2 linked regions of the Homo sapiens genome follow. The protein of the gene in region 1 interacts with the protein of each later gene in a biochemical or structural test. Each region holds a gene or a part of one and is shown on either strand. Other genes may lie near its edges.

Region 1 (3,097 bases):
AAATGCACAGAAGCAAACAAATATGACTGCCAATCAGGGTTGATAGTGACTGTCAACTAGAGTTCAGTCAACTCACACTGTTTGGAACAGATGTTTGGGAAACAAACAAACGTGAGCTTATGATGTACTGGTAGCTAACCTAAAGGGTGTGGGACCATGACAACATTTATCTGAACCCAAGTGAGACCCCTCAGTGTGTGCCTTCAATGGAACCTCTCTACTAAGCCATCAATGGGTGGGAAAAGCTGAGACTATCCTAATTGTGGCTGTGTTTGTTGGGCTGCTGGAACCAGATTACCATACCTCTTTGATGAATGAGCCTGGCAGACCCCGAATCGCATTTAAGTGAAAGCCATAGCCATTTTCACCTTTAGCCAGCCTGCAGAGTTTAGGCTTATGATCTACTTCCTCTGTAGTATCTGGTGGACTTGAGACTTCCAGAGAAGTGGGAGTAGGAGCTGGAGCCTCCTTGACAGAGCCATTGGGCAGTTCTTGACTTTGATAGTAGAGAAATGGAGAAAAATGAGCCTTTTGAAAAATAAAGGGAAAAAACATTAACTTAGTTGTAACCATGAGTAAGTTATACTTTGTTAAATGTGCTGATTTTTAAGGTATCATACATATTCCACTCTTCTTCTGGATGTGTCTGATTGTAGGCTGTAAAATTCCTCTACTACCCCAACCAGGAAAGGTATAAAAGAAGACTGTGCTTCGTTATGGAGTAATATGTGTATACATGTACACAAATGCACACATGAACATAAAAGCAGTATAGGATGCGGTACAAGGATCCCAAAAGAAGTCTAAAAAATTGCTAGTTTCTTTTGAGTGAGTTCATGATAGTGAGCAAGTCACTGAACAAGCTATACATAATCTCCCTGTTGGGAAATGACATATCTGACCGACTAGCCGGTACCTCATGCAGAGTACATTCTTCTGGCTTTTCCTTTCGGTAAGATGGTCTTCAGAGCTCCTTAAACACATTAGAAAAAGTAAAACACAAGACACTTGTGATAGTTAATTTTAGATGCCAACTTGACTGGATTAAGGAATACCTAGAAGCCCGGCAAAGCATTATTTTGGTGTGTGTCTGTGAAGGTGGTTCCAGAGGGGATTAGCATGCGAGTCTGAGTGAACTACAGAAAAGGCAAAGGTGTCAGTCTGTCTGCTAGAGCTGGGATACCCTCTTCCTCTCCTGTGCTTGGACATCAGAATTCCTGGTTCTCCGGCCTTTGGACTCTAAGATCTACAGCCGCAGCCCCCCAGATTCTCAGGCCAAATGCACAGAAGCAAACAAGTAGGACTGCCAATCAGGGGTGATGCCAGTAATGTGGCTCAGTCAGATTTGGACGGAGCCACACTACTGGCATCCCAGGGTCTCAAGCTTGAAGACAGCCTGTCGTGGGGCTTCTCAGCCTCCATAATCATACAAGCCAATTCCCCTAATTAATCTCCTCTCATACCTGTATCTATATCCTACTAGATCTGTCTCTCTGGAGAATGTTAATATAACACTATTTTTATCACTATCCAAAGATTCAAAGCTACTAGAAGAGACCAACCCATATACACAGGAATAATTGGTGAGAGGGTGACAGCTGTTATATGGTCACATATTGTAACAAAAGTTAATTCCAACCCTTTGCTGCTTGCCAATACCCTCCCCTTCCAGACCTGGGATCTGTGCTTATTTATTTTGCTATGTATTGTTGTAAGCATTAGCTGTCACTTCTATTATGCCAAACTCTCCAACATCTTTAAATACTCCTAATTCATATCAACTCCCAGACCATCCATGTAAAGAAATGATGATCTTGAATACCGAAGAGGCATAGAACAGGAAACAGGATTGATTTTTTTGTAATAGAATTACAAGCCTAACTGGCTGTTTTAGTTGAGACAATTAGAAGGGTGGACCTGGGTATGGTGTGATCCTGGATCAGCAGCTAAATGGCTGCCCACACGTGTCCGGAACATTTGTTAGGTGATGAGTAGGAAATCAAGCAATGGAAGGTGAGCACAGTGTGGGCTCTACTTCAAATCGCACTGTTTAGCAGCCTGACTAAAATTAGATTTTTAGTCCTCTGGTTATCATGTGTCTTACTAACCACAAGACCACATCTCCTTCCTTTCTAAGTGAGAATACCACCAGCACAGAACCTCCTAGTTACCCAGTTCAACTAACTTCAGACCTTTCAGTCATATACTTGCAACAGTTCCACAATGGAGCCTTTCTCTTTAAAATATGGAAAATTATCAGGTGACTCATTACATGCAAAAATACGTCTGATAACACTACCCAAACAAGCAAATCAACTGTATCTGACAGTCGCAGCTCATCTCGAGGCAAAGTGCAATAACATTAAAACACTTGAGATTTTGGCCGGGCTTGGTGGCTCATGCCTGAAATCCCAGCACTTTGGGAGTACAAGGTGGGCGGATCACTTGAGGTCAGGAGTTCGAGACCAGCCTGGCCAAAATGGTGAAACCTCATTCTCTACTAAAAATATAAAAATTAGCCAGGTGTGGTAGCACACACCTGTAGTCCCAGCTACTTGAGAGACTGAGGCAGGAGACTCACTTGAACCTGGGAGGCAGAGGTTCCAGTGAGCTGAGAACATACCATTGCACTCCAGCTTGGACAACAGCGGGAGACTCTGTCTCAAAAAAAAAAAATGAGATTTTATTCATGCTTCATTCAGATAATTGGGTGTCTAGTATGTGCCAGGGACTGCTAGAGGGTTGTGTTTTACTCACTGATGTATCTCAAAGATCTACCCTCCACCCCAACCTACAGGGCTTACTTTGGAGAGCGGGGAAGGAGATGATGAGGGCAGGCTTCTTTTTCGATCAAAGTTCTCTATTAACCAAAACAGAAAAATTACAATTAAATCATTCTATGATAAGATCAGGAGGGGTCAGAATCCCCTTTACAACAAACAGCTGCAGCAGCCGCCTCTGATTTCTGCTTGACTTTCCACCAACTGCAAAATGACTCATCATTTCTGGCAGCTTCAGTTGGTTCTTAAGCCAAAAGCTAGCTCCCTATGGCTTCTCTGGTCCTGTTGTGCCCCATAGGACACCTTAAAAAAAATGT
Region 2 (3,755 bases), on another chromosome or scaffold:
AAATAAAACCATGCCGGGGTTGGGCTAGGTGGCTCACTCCTGTAATCCCAGCACTTTGGGAGGCTGAGGCGGGCAGATTGCCTGGGGTCAGGAGTTCTAGTCCAGCCTGGCCAACATGGTAAAACCCTGTTTCTACTAAAAGTACAAAAATTAGCTGGGCATGGTGGTAGGTGCCTGTGATCCCAACTACTCGTGAGGCTGAGGCAGGAGAATCACTTGAACTCCGGAGGCAAAGGTTGTAGTGAGCCGTGATCACACCACTGCACTCCAGCCTGGGCAACAGAGTGAGACTCCGTTTCAAAAAAAAAAAAAACCCATGCCCATTTGTATGTGTATTTTATGGCTGCTTTCCCATACAATGGCAGAGTTGAGTAGCTGCAACAGAGACTGTATGGTCCTCAAGGCCAAAAACATTTATTATCTGCCTCTTTAGAGAGAAAGTGTGCTTTCCTCTGCTTTAGACACTTTAACACAATTGTGGCTTGGAAGCTACAGAGACCTCCACAAAAGTTTGGTGGAAAAAATAATAAAACTAAACCATATTCAAGATGTTCTTTTACAACACAGACCATCTCTGGACATTTGAAGACAGTTGGGAAAAATGTTGCGACAACACCAAATTTAAGTCTAGAAGAAAATAAGTTAGACCAAATTCAAAGTATTCAAGGAAACAAGACCAAGAAATACTAAGAAAAATAACAGGCCGGGGGCAGTGGCTTGCACCTGTAGTCCCAGCATTTTGGGAGGTAGAGGGAGGAGGATCACTTGAGCCCAGGAGTTCAAGACCAGCCTGAGCAATCTAGTGAGACCTCGTCTCTACGAAAAATTTAAAAATTAGTCAGGTGTGGTGGTATGTGCCTGTAGTCCCAGCCACTTGGGAGGCTGAGGTGGAAGAATCGCTTGAGCCTAGGAGGATGAGGCTGCAGTGAGCCGTGATCACGTCGCTGCACTCCAGCCTGAGCGACAGAGCAAGACCCTGTCTCAAAAAATAAATAAATAAATAAAATTGTAAAATTAAAAAAGAAAAATCACTGTTCAGGGAGCTTGACTTAAAACATTACAGATGATAGTTGGATCAGATGACCTCTAATGTCCCTCCAACCCTGAAATTCTGTTTCTTCTAGTCTGTGAAGGTCTATGTTAGCACCTTAGTAATTCAAAGTGTGAATTTCTTAAAATGTGAATGCACCAATAAGAACACATCTCTTGCCAAGTAACAACCATGTTAGCTTTTTCTTCTCTTTTTTTCCAAATTTGCTTTGGAACAGAAAGAAAACCACAGATCTGAAGATTTCAACGAGACCTGTTAAGCCCCACAGACTTTGTCGCACCTGCTGTTACAAAATTGGAAAAAGCTAGAAACCCAGAGAGTCTCCTAGGAAACAAACTATGGATATTGGTCTTGCCTATCACAGGAGTGCTATTACAATATTCCCCAAGCTAAAGGTCTCACACATAAAAACTGACTCTGAGGGAAATAGAAGAAGTAGTAGAACACAGGAGAGACCAACCTTAACAGTTATCTTCAGTAAGAGCCACAGCTCCTCCCCCAGTTCATAAGGAAGCTGGAAGCAGATATCTCTACAAATAAGCAGGCAAATAATAAATTAAGTTTCCATAGTTTGACTCTTTACTTTGATCCAGCCAAAAGTAATTAGTTGGGTCTTCTGCCACGAGCTCTTCACAATAATTGCTGCTGACCTATGAGATATTCAAGATTCCTTAGGAATAGATTTGTATCCTTTCTCTCCGTCTGCAAGAAGAGTTTTTGATGGATGCTGACACCTTCAGGTGAGTTCCTCTTCTCAAAATAGCACCTGCCACTGTTCTAATCCCATTTTTCAGAGATAAATGTTAAGTCCAAACATTGTGTAAGGGGTTTCTCTACTCTGAGTCACTTCATCTCTCAATATTCTTACTTGTTTAGTTACTCAGTATAGTTCTTTTTCTGCTGTCACAAAAATTTTCTTTGCTGTTCTGCTCATATGACTATGTAACTACCATTTAGCCTTTTTATAAATAGTGGCTAATAGGCCAAGCATGTTGGCTCACACCTGTAATCCCAGCACTTTGGGATGCCAAGACGGGCGGATCACCTGAGGTCAGGAGTTCAAGACCAGCCTAACCAACATGGTAAAACCCCATCTCTACTAAAAATACAAAAATTAGCTGGGGGTGGTGGTACACGCCTGTAATCCCAGCTACTTGGGAGGCTGAGGCAGGAGAATCACTTGAACCTGAGAGATGGAGGTTGCAGTGAGCCAAGATGGCACAACTGCATTCCAGCCTGGGCAACAGAGAGAGACTCCATCTCAAAAATAAAAATTAAAATTAAAAAAATTAAAAAATTAAAAAATAGTGGCTAATATTGGATAACACTATTTCCCCCAGGCCTTTAATTGGCTAAATTTTTCTCCAAAGCTATTCTCCATTAAAAGTCCATTCACTGGTTTTAATACCAACCAGACTAGGAAGAGCATCTTCGAGTTCTGTGGTGGTGCCACCCTTGCTCTGTTCTTTTTGTCCTCACCAGGTCCCTTCCACCTATAAGACAAGTTCTCTGCCCAAAATTTGAAAAATGGACATGAGTAAAGCTATAACCTGATTTCTTTGTTGGCAAATATTTTAAACAGACAATTCTAACTCATTGCTAATAAGGGTTTTACATTTTAATAGAAATTGTCTCATGTCTCTCAATTTAATAACTCAAACTTTTCTCATATTATATATGTATATATTTGTTCCATTGTTATTCATCTTTAAATTATTTTCCATTTTATATGTCTTATTGTGAAATTTATTTTAAAAAGAAATTAATTATATTAGTTTTCCAAATATTTGAAATGCTTTTTATAAATAAAAAAGTGTGCTTTGAGTCGATTTTCAGAAAATAATAAAATTTTTAAAGTTTTCTTCATGGCCATTTGAAAGATGGGTTAGGGATACAGTTTGGGACCAGAATTAAGTAAAATTCATTTGCTGAAATGAGGTTAAGCCTGTGCCCTTCGCCTCATTAGAAAAGATGTCTAATCTCCTTGGTTGCTCAAAATTATACACTTTTATTTAGTTTGTGGTCCCCTAATATTTCTCATATATTTTTCAAACATTCATGTACTAGATGGTCTTTATTTTATTTTGTTTATTTATTATTTATTTATTTATTTTGAGATGGAGTTTCATTCTTGTTGCCCAGGCTGGAGTGCAATCGCACGATCTCAAGTCACTGCAACCTCTGCCTTCCGGGTTCAAGCTACTCTCCTGCCTCAGCCTCCTGTGTAGCTGGGATTACAGGCTCATACCACTATGCCCAGCTAATTTTTGTATTTTTAGTAGAGACGAGGTTTCACCATGTTGGCCACACTGGTCTCAAACTCCTGACATCAGGTGATCCACCAGCCTTGGCCTCCCAAAGTGTTAGGATTACGGGCATGAGCCACCGCGACCGGCCTCTAGATGGTCTTTAATATTTGATATCAGATGAGAATTCAAAAACACATTTAATCAATATATTCAAAGACTAAGTATCTGTGAAATAAAAACACTACTAAGCCTTCAGGCTTTTTTCTTTTTTTTTGAGTTGGAGTTTTGCTCTTGTTGCCCAGACTGGAACGCAATGGTGTGCTCTCAGTTCACTGTAATCTCAGCCTCCCAGGTTCCAGCGATTCTCCTGCCTCAGCCTCCTGAGTAGCTGGGATTACAGGCATGTGCCACCACACCACACTAATTTTGTATTTTTAGTAGAGACGGGGTTTCTT

The links. Proteins that work in one complex are often made in the same cells at the same time.
Region 2: the proteins of PDZK1 (region 1) and OR10G3 interact in a test that uses a peptide from one of them, tested with the Homo sapiens proteins (one large-scale study listed by IntAct).

What each region holds. Positions count from the first base shown.
Region 1 is NC_000001.11:145,673,354-145,676,450, forward strand, and holds part of PDZK1 (Na(+)/H(+) exchange regulatory cofactor NHE-RF3), read right to left. Parts: intron 2,861-3,097; coding exon of another isoform or gene 2,805-2,860; intron 974-2,804; coding exon of another isoform or gene 917-973; intron 529-916; coding exon 304-528; intron 1-303. UniProt on the Homo sapiens protein: A scaffold protein that connects plasma membrane proteins and regulatory components, regulating their surface expression in epithelial cells apical domains.
Region 2 is NC_000014.9:21,577,822-21,581,576, reverse strand, and holds the start of OR10G3 (olfactory receptor 10G3), read left to right. Parts: upstream 1-1,500; 5' UTR 1,501-1,791; intron 1,792-3,755. UniProt on the Homo sapiens protein: Odorant receptor.